2 linked regions of the Homo sapiens genome follow. The protein of the gene in region 1 purifies or fractionates together with the protein of each later gene. This does not show direct contact. Each region holds a gene or a part of one and is shown on either strand. Other genes may lie near its edges.

Region 1 (7,721 bases):
AACTGATGTAAAGTATCTGACAACGTCTTTTATCTTAGATTCTATCAATCTTTACATTTTGGAAAAAGGACTTGCAGGTTTGAAAAGAAAAACCCAGACATCACCAGGTACCCTACTGTTCATGATTGGAGGTGTTTTTTGCAATCTATGCATGCAGAATTATCTCTTCTCATGCTCAAGAAAAGCTGACCCTTCCATTTCACAGCTTGATTCATGGGAGTGGCTTATTGCAGTTTCGTTATTCTGTACTTTCCCACATGAAGAAGGTATGTGTGGGAAAACATCAATCCTTACACATCCCTTATGGCATGAGAGTTGATGCTTGATGATTTGCAGACCAGGTGTGGGACTGTGGGACAGGCGAGAGACCCATCTTCCCTGGCCGCAGATGGCATGGGAGGTGGCTTCAGACTGTGCGTGGATTGTTTGTGGATGGAACATTAGTAGTTGACCGTATATTCCAAGATCATCAATAATAGTTTTAGTAAGTTTATCATTCTAAAGCAGAACTCAGCAATCTGAAACCCTTTGCCCACATTTGGATAGCCAAAATTTAAGAATGGCTAATAATTTACTTCTTATAATTTTAATTGCATGGGCAATACTTTTTAGTAGAACTTTTCTAGGGTGTATTATTTGCTTCTTTAACTTGATATAGAGAAGGCTGAAAACCAATAAACCTTTTCCTTATAACCTGACCTCATTCTGTTGACTATCATTCTAGTACTTTGCCAAAATACAGTGATTACTACTATGTTTACTATAGTTCTGTGGAGAATACAATAATTGTTACAGGCTTCTATAGCATCTGAATATTCACTCCCACACCAAATGGCCCCACACCAATGTACTCCCTAATTTTTATTCCTTACTTCTCACTATGCTTTTTGTACTTGCCTATGGCAACCACTCTCTCCTCTTTGTTTCTTTTAATCTGTGTCAGTCATAGAAGTCCAACAACCTTGTGAATAGATAATTAATAGGTTGTTAGATCTATTCCTATCAGTAGAGGAGGAGCTCAATGTTATGACATTGTCATGACAATGTTGTGACTTGACATTGATTTTGGGGACTTTGTGGTCTCTTATTTTACTCCCTGACTCTTACCTTGTTTAAGGTCAAGTAAGTCCAGGCACAGAGGCTCATGCCTGTAATCCGAGCACTTTGGGAGGCAAAGGCGGGAGGATCCCTTGAGCCTAGAAGTTCAAGACCAGCCTGGGCAACATAGTGAGACCCCATCTCTATAAAAACCTTTTTAAAATGCCAAATGAAACTAACAGGTACTGGATTTCAGACTGGTGAGTTGTTTGAGGAACAACTTAGATGCAAACTAACGTCAATTCAACTCTTATTCACAAAAGAAATCTAAAATTCTTAATGTTGTGTTTGCTTTATTTTGAGCTGAGGACTCAATTGTTATAGAACTTCACATGTAGAACTAAAACCCATGAGGTACCCTTTTTTGCAGAGTGGAGGAAAGAGGGCAATGCCAGTTTAGGAAACTTATGTTCAGTTAAGGTGAGATTGTACTAGTTTTGGTTTTAGATTGGTAATTCCTGGAGGCTGCTCTGAAGGTTGATACCAACATTGCTGGAGAGGTATGAAATGGTCCCTCCCTACCATTGATAAAATAAGGTACATTGTTGCTACATGGAGAGGCCAGTTCCTCATTCTCCCAACAAACAAATGCTGAGCTGAGCATCAAATCTATAGGTACTTTCTTTCTTTTTTTTTTTCTTTTTAGAGATGGAGTCTGGCTCTGTCGCCCAGGCTGAGTGCAGAGGTGTGATCATATCGCACTGTAACCTCAAACTCCTAGCCTCACAGAATCCTCATGCTGCAGTGCTCCTGAGTAGTTGGGGCTATGGATGCTTACCACCCCACCCAGCTAATTTTGAATCAATAGGTACTTTCACACATACATACAATCAGGGCCGTTCTATTATTTTTCTCCTTTAGAAGACTGTCCAAGTTCTAGGCAGCAACAATGTTAAAGGAATTCAGTATATTTGCATAGGCACTTGCATAATAGTTAGATCAGATTTCTTAGTCTTTGGGTTTCCCCTCTGTCCTTCTGGCCTTTTCCTCTCCTCTTTTGAGGGGTTAGGATACGGCTTTGGGTTTCCTTTGTAGTCGTTCAGACACAGGGGTGTAGCTGCTGGTAGGAAGTTATTTATGGCCAATAGGATTCACATCGGTAAGAATTATTTATTAGCCACTGTCTTAAATATTGGAACCAAGGCAATAGTAACTGCCGACATGATGCACTGCGGAAATGGAGAAACTTTAAAAACAGCAGGGCTTAGGGAGGTGGTTTGCAGAAAGGCAGGAAGAGCTCAAGCACCAGAAGAAATGGGTCTGGTTTCTCTTCCAGTATCACCGCCAATTGGCTGTGTGACCTAGGACAAGCCACTTCTCCTCTGCCAACTGCCATGCAGCATTTACCAAGAGGACATCAAAGAACCTCCCTCACAGGCCTGTTGCAGAAATTAAATGAGATAATGGCTAAGGCTCCTGGGAAGCTTTCCCTAAATGACTACACCCAGTGGATCTGGTAGAATCAAAAGTTAACAAGTCAATCCATTCATGCTAACTCTTCTTTATGTTTAAAAGAGGAAATTAATACATGGTCACCATAAAGAAAATTCACCAACCTTTGACCTTCCAAGCTTTGAGAATCCAGCAAACACCCACCCACACTGTTGGGGAAGCCATCTCACTGTACTAGAAATGAAACCATTGCAGGTTAATGATTCACTAATTCTAATGAGACCTGGAGAGATCAGCAAAACAAGCGAAACTGATAGCAATAGGACAAAAGGAAAGTGCAAGAGAGAAACCCAGAAAGCAGCTGAATGTTGCCTTTAATACCTGTAAGATGGTCTGTCCCTGAAGGCAACTGCACCCAGGTGGGTCCCGAGGCTCCTCAGAACCCGCAGATCCAGAGTGAGCTGCCAGGCGAGGGCTCGGAGCAACAAGTTCCACACCTGTAACAATGCGTCCTCCTGGCTGAGTGAAAGCAACCTTGCTACCAGCTGCAATGAGGAACTGGTCTCTCCCCTCCTTAGAGACATTTCCAGTTATTTGTTTATGAAAAAGCCTAAAGGGAAGCCAGCTCAGAATCTAAGGCAGCCTAAGAACAAGTCAGGTAAACAACGGCTGATCAAATACAGAAATGATGCAAATGTAACTTTTTACTTCCTCTTGAGGCATTCAACAAATCATCACTCATAGTTCAGTGAAGCAGTTCTAGGTTTCTATTTCATTTATTTTCTCTAAGGTTGTGAGATGCATTCTTTGGGACTCTACTTTCTTCACATCATAAAACATTTTGTGTTGATCTATTTTATTAATGACTTGCTTTGATAAGCATTGAATAGTAGAGGAAATGATTAGAGCACCAGGGAGTGAATTTGTGAACATTAGTTTTCAAATAATTAAAATGCAAATGGAAGAGCATTTATATCTACCAGTATTCTCATTAGATCAGTACCCCAAAGAATATTTATTTGATGCCTAGGTGGAGATAATGCATATGTATGCAGCATTAAACAAAAATGTCTATAGACTTTCCCAAAACAAAGTTGAAGTAATTCTAATGAAGTCTAATTCACTGAAGTTTTCATTGATTGGACTCATTACAGATACTTACTGTGAAGGTTCCCTGAGGTCGGTAGTTCTTAAAGTAGGGTCCCTGGACCAGCAGTATCACTATGACTTGAGAACTTGTTAGAAAGGAAAAATCTTCCCCCTCCATGCTCTCCAACCCCTGGAACTCTGGGATGGGGTCAGAAGTCCGTGGTTTTTTTTTGAGACAGGGTCTCACTCTGTCACTCAGGCTGGAGTGCAGTGGCACGATCTCAGCTCACTGCAACCTCCACCTCCTGGGTTCAAGCGATTCTCCTACCTCAGCTTCCTGTGTAGCTGAGATTACAGGTGCACACCACCAGGGCCCGGCTAACTTTTGTATTTTTAGTACAGACGGGGTTTCACCATATTGGCCAGGCTGTCCGAACTCCTGACCTCAGGTGGTCCACCCACTTCGGCCTCCCAAAGTGCTGGGATTACAGGTGTGAGCCACTGTGCCCAGCCAGAAGTCTGTGTTTAACAAGACTTCCAGGTGATTCTTACATGGGTTAAAATTTGAGAACCACTGCCCTTAGAGGAAAAGAAAAAAAGGTCTAACTTATAGATGTTGGCCTTGTGATAAACTTTATATTAGTCTTTAATTCTCTCATATTGATCTTACTAGAACATCATTTACTTAGAACTTTGAAAAATGACTTGATCTCCTGCCCTCACCACCATTGCCAACATTACCATGACTCAACCAAAAGCAGGATATCAAAAAATATTTTGCCTGCATGGAGCCTGCATAAACAGTTCTGAGCTCCTGCCAAGGATGTCTAGAAGTGAATTGCTTCAATTTGGGAAGGAAAAAAATGAATAAAGTCTTTTAGCTTTTAGTTTGTGGAAGGAAGGTCATACTCTTTTCTACCAATCCCCTCACGCACATGGGATTGTAAAGCTGTCTCTCCTAGGGGATAATGATAATGGAATACTTGATCCCAATGCAAAAACTTCCAACCTCTGGTTGTAACTTCAAGAAGGAAATTAAGAGTCTTATAGAAAGGTCACAAAAGATTATCACGGAAAAAAATGTGCCACCTCCATCTGATTTGTCAAGGAGATGGCAACAGGGAGGCATTTTGGGTGGGGAAGGGACACCCCAGAGTCAGCTTTTCCTTTAAGAACCTGGGGCAACCTCACTGTGGCCCTTTCTCAGATGACACATGGAGGTGCTCTCCAATATCGCAGAGGGAGCAGCTCGCCTCAGCATTTTTTGCCTGTGTGTAGTTTTACGTTTATGTATGCTTTGCTTCAATAAAAAGTATACCTTAAAAAGTATGTCTATGCTAAAAGATGACATCCTGGTTTGCTTACTTTATGGCTTTGAATTGGCAAATTCCTAAAAGATATTTTCTTTCTAGTTGTTGAAAAGAGGTATGAGATTTATTTGAGCTTCCTTTTAGGTTTTAGGGCTACAAAAATTCAGTTGTACCATATTTACAATGATTAATATAGCTGGGCACAGTGGCTGATGCCTGTAATCCCAGCACTTTGGAAGGCCAAGGTGGGCAGACTGATTGAGCCCAGGAGTTTGGGACCAGCCTGGGCAACATGCTGAAACCCCGTCTCCACAAAAAATACAAAAATTAGTTGGGTGTGGTGTTGGGCACCTGTAGTCCCAGCTACTTGGGAGGCTGAAGTGGGAGGAATGCTTGGGCTGAGGTTGCAGTGAGCCGTGATCATGCCACTGTACTGCAGTCTGGGTGACAGAGAAAGATCCTGTCTCTCAAAAACAAACCAAAACAAAAAAAGGTGACTATCAGATTAATATCAATGCATCTTGATATCTTTCAATATTTCTGAGGTATTTATTTAGGAAAAGTTTCTAGGTAGTACATATTCTGAGCTGTTTCATACCCCAAAATGACTTTATTTTGCTATCACATGTGCAGGGCATGGAATTCTTGCAACATGGTATTTTCCTTTAAAGGTCTGTAGACATTTTTGCATGATTTCAGTCATTAATAGTTGAAATAGGAGGTCAATAGAATATTTACTCTTTGCTGGGTACCATACTCTTAAATTTTTTTTTACTTCTTTGTGAGATTGTGTATGTTCTATTGAAGTGTGAAATATATATATACACACACAATACAATAGAACATTATATATATATAATTTTATTGGGATTAGGTCTTGCTATATCAAGCTGATCTCAAACTCCTGGGCTCAAGTGGTCCTCTTGCCTTAGCCTCCCCAGTAGCTGGGACTACAGGGAATGCTGCTAATTTTTTATTTTGAATTTTTTTAAAAGATAGGGTTGGCCGGGCATGGTGGCTCACGCCTGTAATCCCAGCACTTTGGGAGGCAGAGGCGGGCAGATCACGAGGTCAGGAGATCGAGACCATCCTGGCTAACACGGTGAAACCCCGTCTCTACTAAAAATACAAAAAATTAGCCGGGCGAGGTGGCGGGTGCCTGTAGTCCTGGCTACTCGGGAGGCTGAGGCAGGAGAATGGCCTGAACCCCAGGGGATGGAGCCTGCAGTGAGCTGAGATCACGCCACTGCACTCCAGCCTGGGCGACCGAGTGAGACTCTATCTCAAAAAAAAAAAAAAAAAAAGAGATACGTTCTTGGTATGTTGTCCAGGCTTAAGTTTTTTCTTTTATATTTGAAGGTAGAGAGGTTTACCTAGCATATGTCATGGTGGGTTCTGTTTACCAAATATCTGGTGTGTACTCTCTGTTATTTAAAATATTTTTTCTAAATAAGAAATATTTTCTGTGCTATTTGACATTTATCTCTCTTCCACTGATTCTTTTCCTTCAGTCCCCATTCTTCTTTGTCTTCACTTCACTCTTCACTTTCCTCATTCTCTTTCTTCACTCTTCAGAGTGAAGTTATCGCTTCACTCTGATATTTTATCTTTTCTCTACATTATTGCTATTGCTTTTACCTTAGGGATAATTTCTTGATACTGTTTTCTATTTGGCTATTTTGCTTGTTCCATTTTCTGCATAGTCCAAATTGCCTTTAACTGTTTCCATAATGACTTTAACATCAATTTTCCTTTCAAGATAAATAGGAGTATTTCAGCTCAATTCTTTTTTAGATGGACTTTTGCTCTTGTTGCCCAGGCTGGAGTGCAGTGGTGCCATCTTGGCTCACTGCAACCTCCACCTCCTGGGTTCAAGTGATTCTCCTGCCTCGGCCTCCCAAATAGCTGGGATTACAGGCATGTGCCACCATACCCGGCTGATTTTGTATTTTTAGTAGAGACGGGATTTCACCATGTTGGTCAGGCTGGTCTTGAATTCCTGACCTCAGGTAATCCATCCATCTCAGCCTCCCAAAGTGCTGGGATTACAGGTGTGAGCCACCGCTCCTGGCTTTGCAATTCTTTTTTATTACAAAATGTTTTCATGGTGGCAGACTGTAGGTTCTTGATTCATGTCAAAAATATGGATTATTTAGTGTGTCATGAACTGAGGGTTATGATTAACTCAACTATATGTGGTCTAAAAATTAAAGTCAAAGAATCATGAATTATAATTTCTAATTTTTTCTGTTTTTTGAAATAACTCTGTTTCAAAAAAAGTAGTTCTACTGAGCCATCCTAGAATTTTTTTGCTTTATTCTTATGACCTGTAAGCTCTTTTACTATGCTCAGTAGTTATTCCATTTGCCATTCCTTAGAGAAGGGTATCTTTGCTTGGCCAGTGTTGATTTGGGGTTGACAAAGGATTTCACTAGGTTCTGATTGCTTGCTCAGCAATTTTGCAGTTTAAGGGGCAGGGACCTAGAGTGACAGCTGCAGCCACAATCAGAGCATAAGCTGGGTGCCATCACACTCATTCAGGAATGAAGGGCTCCCCAGCATGGCCAGTCCTCTGCTTGCTTTCAGACTTATGACCAGGAGCCACATCTGAGGCCTTCCCTCAGATGTGCATTCCTAGAGCTCAAGTGAAAGGACCCAATGGGCCGGGCTTCCCATGAGTTCCCTATGCTTTCCTGCCTTTTGAGTCTTGGAACAGTGCCAACTCACCTCTTGGAATTGGAGTTTTAGTAGACATTTGTTAGCAGCCTCCCTGCACCCGTGATCCACTCTCCTTTCCAGAGTCGTGATTTCCATTTAGGTTCCATGTGTTTC
Region 2 (7,025 bases), on another chromosome or scaffold:
CCCAAGGACTTTTGAAGAAAGTCAGCAGAGTGAGTTAAATAACTTCACTATAGATAATGCTACTTAACCTCAGCTGCACTGCCTGGCAATTCTTAAGAACTGTCTGGGATCCCCTATTACACTGCCAAGAACCAGGATTAAAATTTTCATAAACTTCTTCAATTTCCCTCCTTTCCTCTCTAAATGTCTCTGAACCTTCACCTACTCTCTCCTTCTGTCTTAGAAGCATCTCTTTTCTAGACTAGACTCTTGACCCTACTGCCTCTATTACTTGTAAGTCCCACTGCCCATCTTACAGTGTTAGCCAGACTCCTCTCTACTGGTTTCTTCCTTTCAATCTATAAGCATGTTCATAATCCTCACATCCTTGAATGTAAAAAAATATTTAAAAACTAGCCTTTTCTGGCCGGGTGCGATGGCTTACACCTGTAATTCTCAGCACTTTGAGGGGAGGCAAAGGAGGGTGGATCACCTGAGGTCAGGAGTTCGAGACCGGCTTGGCCAACATGGTGAAATCCCGTCTCTACTAAAAATACAAAAATTGGCCAGGCATGGTGGCATGCGCCTGTAATCACAGCTACTTGGGAGGCTGAGGTAGGAGAATCACTTGAACCCGGGAGGCGGAGATTGCAGTGAGCTGAGAATGCACAACTGTACTCTAGTCTGGGCAACAAGAGCGAAACTCCATCTCAGAAAAAAAAAAAAAAATCAGCCTTTTCTTTCCTTAACGAGGCCATTTCCTTAAGCTATAATATTACCCATTCTGTACCCTTGCCTTTACTGTTAACAGTGTAGTTTCTATTCACTGCCTGTCCCTCAATACATTCACTCCCCAGCCCTTTGAATTATCCCTCCTACTGTACACACCTGTTCTCAAAGGTCACCTAAATTTCATGCCAAAATTCAGGGGACTTTTTCTATTCCTTCTTCTCCCTGGTCTCTCCAGCATTGGAGAGTGTAGCCCTTCCTCCATTCCTGCTCTTCTGTTCTCTCATGTCCTGACATACTTCTGTCCCCGACTTCTTAAAATTCTTCTCCCTTGACCTAAGAGACAGTTATCTTAATTAACTCTCTAAATTAATCCAAAGCCAAATAAATTTTTCCCATCTTCCCAAATCTATCCTCTTCCTAATGTCTGCATTTCTGTAAATGGCACTGATATCTCTTTGTCACTCAAGCTCAAAATCTGAAATTCTTTGGCTCTTTTCCTTCCCTCACCAATTCAAGACTGCTTGGATCTACCTCCACAATACATTTTATATATTAAAATTCCATATGAGTGAAATAGTCCTTCCTTTCTTATAAAGACTTAGATTCTCATAATAGTCTCTGAACTGGTCTTCCTTTTCCAAATAACTCTACTACCAGAGTCTGATCATGTCACTACAGTACTGAAACCTACCACGAACAGCCAGGCAGCCCAGCAACACCTCTAAGAGATATGCAGTTCCTTTCGATCAGCCACAATCTATATTCGTCTTAAACATGGCAACCTCCTGGATGATGGAGGCCCATGTCATCTTAAAAATCATCTCCAACAACACTAAAAGCATTGTCTTGACCAAGGAAGTCGTAAGAATGTTTCTATTCATCCCCTTGACAACAGCTAAAAATAATGTACTTACTTCTTCAGTGACTATTTCATGCAAATCTGGAATGCTGAGATCTGCTTTCACAAAAGGAATCTTGTCCACCTCTTCAGGAAATGGCCGATGTTTCACAGAATATTTAAATCCAACGTCATTTTTAGGAACTGGGCGAGGTTCAGGTACAAAAAGCTGTTAAAACAAGTAACATTATGTTTATTACACAGGGTCCAATACCCATCTGTAATGACATGTATTTCCCTGGTCTCTTAGATGCCTGTGTTTCCCTAGGATTACATGTCACAAAAACTCACTCAGAACCTGCAAATGCTACAGATAACAGCAAAGGGAAGCAGCCTGTGCCCCTGTGTACTCTATTTTTCTAAAAATATTCATCGACTTCTTATAGATCTAATGACTGACAAATGGGCTGTGGACCTCTACTGCTGCAGGCCTGAATCTCCCACATTCAGTGGTTATCCAATGGGTATAGCATTTTGGAGCTTTAAGACTCAAACTCTCTTCCCCAGGGGCTCTCACATCATTCAATATAATTAAAGACAAGTTTGGCTTCACTGGGCATCTCTAGAAAGTGATTTTAACAAGAATCTTAATACGGCTTAATTGAGAGTATGGGCACCAAATCTAGGTCTTCACAGCTCCAAATCCATGCTTTAATATGTATATGGGTACATGGTGAACCCTAAACAAATTTTAGCTCCTTTCCTGGTCCCCTTCCTCTTCAGTCTTCAATGCTAACTTACTGGCTTACAGAGTTGATGACAGGATGTGCTCTGTACTGCCCCCTCCAAAAAAATGGAGGACTGGGTGATAAACACATCACATCTAACAGAGACATCTAAGATATTAAATGATTTTAGGCACATGCTCCAATTTTGTGGTGTCTCTCAAATGCTAGTGAAATATTAAGTCACATTTTAAATTTTTTTTAATCACATTTTTTTATTATGATACTTTAAGTTTTAGGGTACATGTGCATAATGTGCAGGTTAGTTAAATATGTATACATGTGACATGCTGGTGCGCTGCACCCACTAACTCGTCATCTAGCATTAGGTATATCTCCCATTGCTATCCCTCCCCACTCCCCCTACCCGACAACAGGCCCCAGAGTGTGATGTTCCCCCTCCTGTGTCCATGTGTTCCCACTGTTCAATTCCCACCTATGAGTGAGAATATGCGGTGTTTGGTTTTTTGTTCTTGCGATAGTTTACTGAGAATGATGATTTCCAATTTCATCCATGTCCCTACAAAGGACATGAACTCATCATTTTTTATGGCTGCATAGTGTTCCATGGTGTATATGTGCCACATTTTCTTAATCCAGTCTATCATTGTTGGACATTTTATATTTTTAATAGCAGAAATAAAAGCTTACAATGTTATAAATGAAAAGAGCAGTATACAAAATGACTCAAATTCTATTCAAGTGTTATTGTGTATGAAAAGAAAAAAAGGGAAGGAAATCCAATAAAATATTAGCAGTGGTTATATTCCTCTGGATAGTGAGTAAAGGTGATTTAAAATTTCTTCGTTATCTGAATTTTTCCAACTTCTCAAGTATTATTCACATAATTACAAATGTAATAAAATAAACTGCACCCCAAAAGATTTCATTAAATTATACACAGCATACATATGTGTGTGTGTGTGTGTATATGTATGTGTGTGTGTGTGTATATATATATATATTTTTTTTTTTTTTTTTAATTAGGCTGGGTGTGACAGCTCACATCTGTAATCCTAACACTTTGGGAAGCTGAGGTGGGAAGATCACTTGAAGACAGAAGTTTGGGATCAGCCTGGGCAACAAAGCAAGACCCTATCTCTACAAAAAATTTTAAAAATGAGCTGGGTGCCATGGCATGTGCCTACAGTCTCAGCTACTCAGGAGGATGAGGCAAGAGGATCACTGGAGCCCAGGAGCTTGAGGCTGCAGTGAGCTATGATTACACCACTGCACTCCAGTCTGGGCAACAGAACAAGACCCTGACTCTTTATAAAAAAAATAAAATTTATACAATATATTACCAATTATTATATAAGAACAAATCATATAAAACAATTTCAAACTAAGTCCTGTTGCGGACAAATCAAAAGTCCCACCAAATTTTTTTCACGTATGGTATATATCTGACTTTTATTACATTTGTAAAATTACATGGAAAAAACTGGGGCCATTGTCCACAACAGCAATTACTCCTAAGTAGATGTCAGAATCACCTGGAAAGCTTTTTGAAAAGACACCTGCCTTGAACATGTCTTTAAAGAGTAATTGAGTACATCTGGAATTCTAGGTTCCTAGATGATTCTGATATGAACCCACTGACTGAGAATCTGGCTAGGGATCAAAAATATTTATTTGATCTGTGTCTTCTGTTGGAATGTTACCTAACCTTTAAATTACAAAACACACACACACTTCCCTGTAACTTCTGATGAATACCTTCTGATTTGCTTTTGCTCCTCTGGGTAAAAGACAAAGCTGTTGTGCCCAAGCAAGTCTTCCAGACATTCCCCGGACCAGCACAGTGACAGAGGGGAAAAAATCATCTAGAATAAAATATGTATATAAAAGTTTTAATTTCAGACAACAACCATTTAAAATAAACTTGTTATCAACTGCAGAGCTTCTCATAATCAAAGGCCCAACAGTGTTTCCTAAGCTTTGATCTTTTGTGTACCACTTCTGTGGTTTCTGCCGTACCCATACCCGTGTACTGTAAGTACTATTACTTTGTATCAACCACTCTTGTGCATCTCTAAATGGAAAATCATGAATTTTGGCATGTACTAATTATATAATTTTAAAGCACATGCTTAAAAATACATAAAATAATGTTCACTAATGTATCAACTAAGATCATCTCACATACCTCCAATGGTACATGTACACATTTGTGGGAAACACTGTCCTAGTAAATACTCTTAACCTCCCAATGTTGGGAACAACTTAAGTGTAGAAAGACAGACTGGGTGTTTGCAGTGTTAGTGTTATATCTGCCCATGCCTTTGTGTACCACTGCCCACCACAGGCAGGCACTGTTCCATCTCAGCAGAAGTTCAGGGACATGATGGGGGTGTTAAAAAAAACACTCAGGATGGACTTCCCGAGTGACCCAGATCCTTTTTTTTATTCTTCCGTCTCAGATATGGGAGTCAAACGCCTTCAAACTTCTCTATAATTTCTTATTATTACAATAAACTATTAAAATGTCCTTGTAAATCTATACAATTCCAATTGCTTGTATTTTTGGTACACTTCCTATGCAATGAAATTATTTGGAATGAAAGTAGGAGAGTCTTTAAAAAGCTGGAAAAAGGCCAGGAAGCCTGAAGGGGACACTGGGATTTTGCAGACTCCTCAGCAGATGGCTTGGAGTAGGAGGCTGGAGGAATCATGAACAGGCACAGGCTAGGAAAGAAAGCCAAGCAAGCTCCATGTCTAGGGTAGAGAAGGATGAGATGCCTGTAGAAAAGACTTGGGAGTAGCAGTTCTGAAGTTAGACAATAATAAAAGGCACCATTCCATTTCACATTAATGTCACCGCATCTCACCACAACACAACAGAAGTTTATGATGGTATTCTTTTCATCTCAAACTGCAGGGAAATGTCTCACTTTCACTTCATGGATTTATGAGCTCTTACTCATATAATCAACAAAACTGGCACAGAACTCTTCACCTTTACAAAGGCAAGAAGGCAAATCTTTAATCACTGAGCAAATCCTATCACTGTGCGACAATAATAATAGAAAGGGACAATACAGGGTTTAGAAAATCTGGGCTCTAGTCCCAAGTAACCCTGGGCAAGTCATATACCCTCTGTGAGCCTGAGTTTTTTCACTCATAACTAAGGGAATTGTATACCAGGTGACTCCATGGGTCACTTTATACCCACAGATTCTGTAACCTTCACTTTCCTTCCCCTTCCCAGCAATAAGGGTCTGAGAACATGCTTCTTTTACATACTGGCTGATGCCAATTACCATCAGAAAAAAAAAATGTACTTGTGGATAGTTTGGGTCGCAGTGATAATCACATATTGTGAGATGGCTTATAACTGAGGGGGAGGGAAAGGAGGAAAACAGTGCATGTTGTGTTAATGGAAAATCACTGAAGGATTTTCAGTAGGGCACTGGCATGGTCATTTGTGGTTGAAGATGAATACTATGGTGGCAGCAAGTAGGATGAAAGTAGGGAAAACACATGTTAGAACTGGCAAGGGGTTTAGGGGTTGAGGGAATCAGAGTAGGTAGGAAACAGCTGTAATAATCTAGGTGAGAAATAATAAGGACCTGCACTTGGATGTATTGGGAAAATACAGAGGAAAGGAAAAATTCAAGGGTCCCTGGGAAGATGGAAACTTAGAAACTAATTATATAAGTGAGTAACAGGAAGGGGCAGGTAAAGATAACTCCTCAAGTTTCTAGCCTGTGTAGGTAGCACCAACAATTGATACAGAACATGAGGAGTGAGAGGGAGGGGAGCAGAGGGGCAGGATCCGAAGTTCAAGGGGGAAGAAAAAGTGACAAAGATAAACAACACAATGGAACCCACTAAAACACCACCTTTTATAAAACTACAGAGCTAGTTCAGATGCACATCAAGAGCCTTTAAAAGACTCTATGTAATATGTATATTCTATTTTTTTGCCCCCCTATTTTTCAGGTGCTATTGTCCCACAGCTAGAAATCTTTCTGACCTACTTAGAATCTGTAGGCTGTCCTTCCCTGATCCTGGAAACAGCTTCATGGTACTGGTAACACTGATTAAGCAGTAGAGAAGGCTCAAAGTACTATAAACTTACTCTGCTCATTTCCAAGAGGTTGTTCCAGCATTGCCAGGATGACACTGTTATCCAAGACAAAGTACCGGAAACTATGCTTGTTTATGGTTGGCAGCCTGGAGTATTTAATCAAAGTGGTCTCATTCACAAGACTACAAGGAGAGGCAGGACCACTAGGTGAAGGAAATGCGCCGAGCAACTGCATAATGCTATGGAGAATGGAAAAGATAACAGTTAATTCCCAAAGCAAAATCTTCAGTTTACCTTGTGCATCAATGTGTCCCCTTCCACTCTTCTGAATTTTAATTGACCACAGCCATGCTTCTTGACAGGTCAGATTTACTCCTTGTGGTGAATGCCATGGCATGCTGTCCAGACTCTCCCCTCCAAGATTAAAAAGCCCATTACCCCAGATGCATACCTGTATGTCTTTATTTCAGAGACATTTAATCTGCCTTTCCAGTCTGGTCAATATCCGGAACAGAAAATGCAGTTAGGCTGGTATAATTTGATCTTAGTGACCTACTCCCTTACCAGCAACCTATCTGATATCTTAGAATCTTGCATGGAACACAGCAAGCTCATATTCCATATGCTTTGTGACAACCGTCTCTATCCCATTTTAGAA

What was found. Proteins that work in one complex are often made in the same cells at the same time.
Region 2: the proteins of PLEKHG7 (region 1) and RALGAPB purify together in Homo sapiens (affinity purification with mass spectrometry; 2 studies listed by BioGRID and IntAct, with this or other methods). This does not show direct contact.

Annotation. Positions count from the first base shown.
Region 1 is NC_000012.12:92,698,283-92,706,003, reverse strand, and holds the start of PLEKHG7 (pleckstrin homology domain-containing family G member 7), read right to left. Parts: upstream 3,016-7,721; 5' UTR 2,872-3,015; intron 2,721-2,871; exon of another isoform or gene 2,716-2,720; coding exon of another isoform or gene 2,655-2,715; intron 1-2,654.
Region 2 is NC_000020.11:38,545,824-38,552,848, reverse strand, and holds part of RALGAPB (ral GTPase-activating protein subunit beta), read right to left. Parts: intron 6,607-7,025; coding exon 6,419-6,606; intron 4,161-6,418; coding exon 4,054-4,160; intron 1,779-4,053; coding exon 1,626-1,778; intron 1-1,625. UniProt on the Homo sapiens protein: Non-catalytic subunit of the heterodimeric RalGAP1 and RalGAP2 complexes which act as GTPase activators for the Ras-like small GTPases RALA and RALB.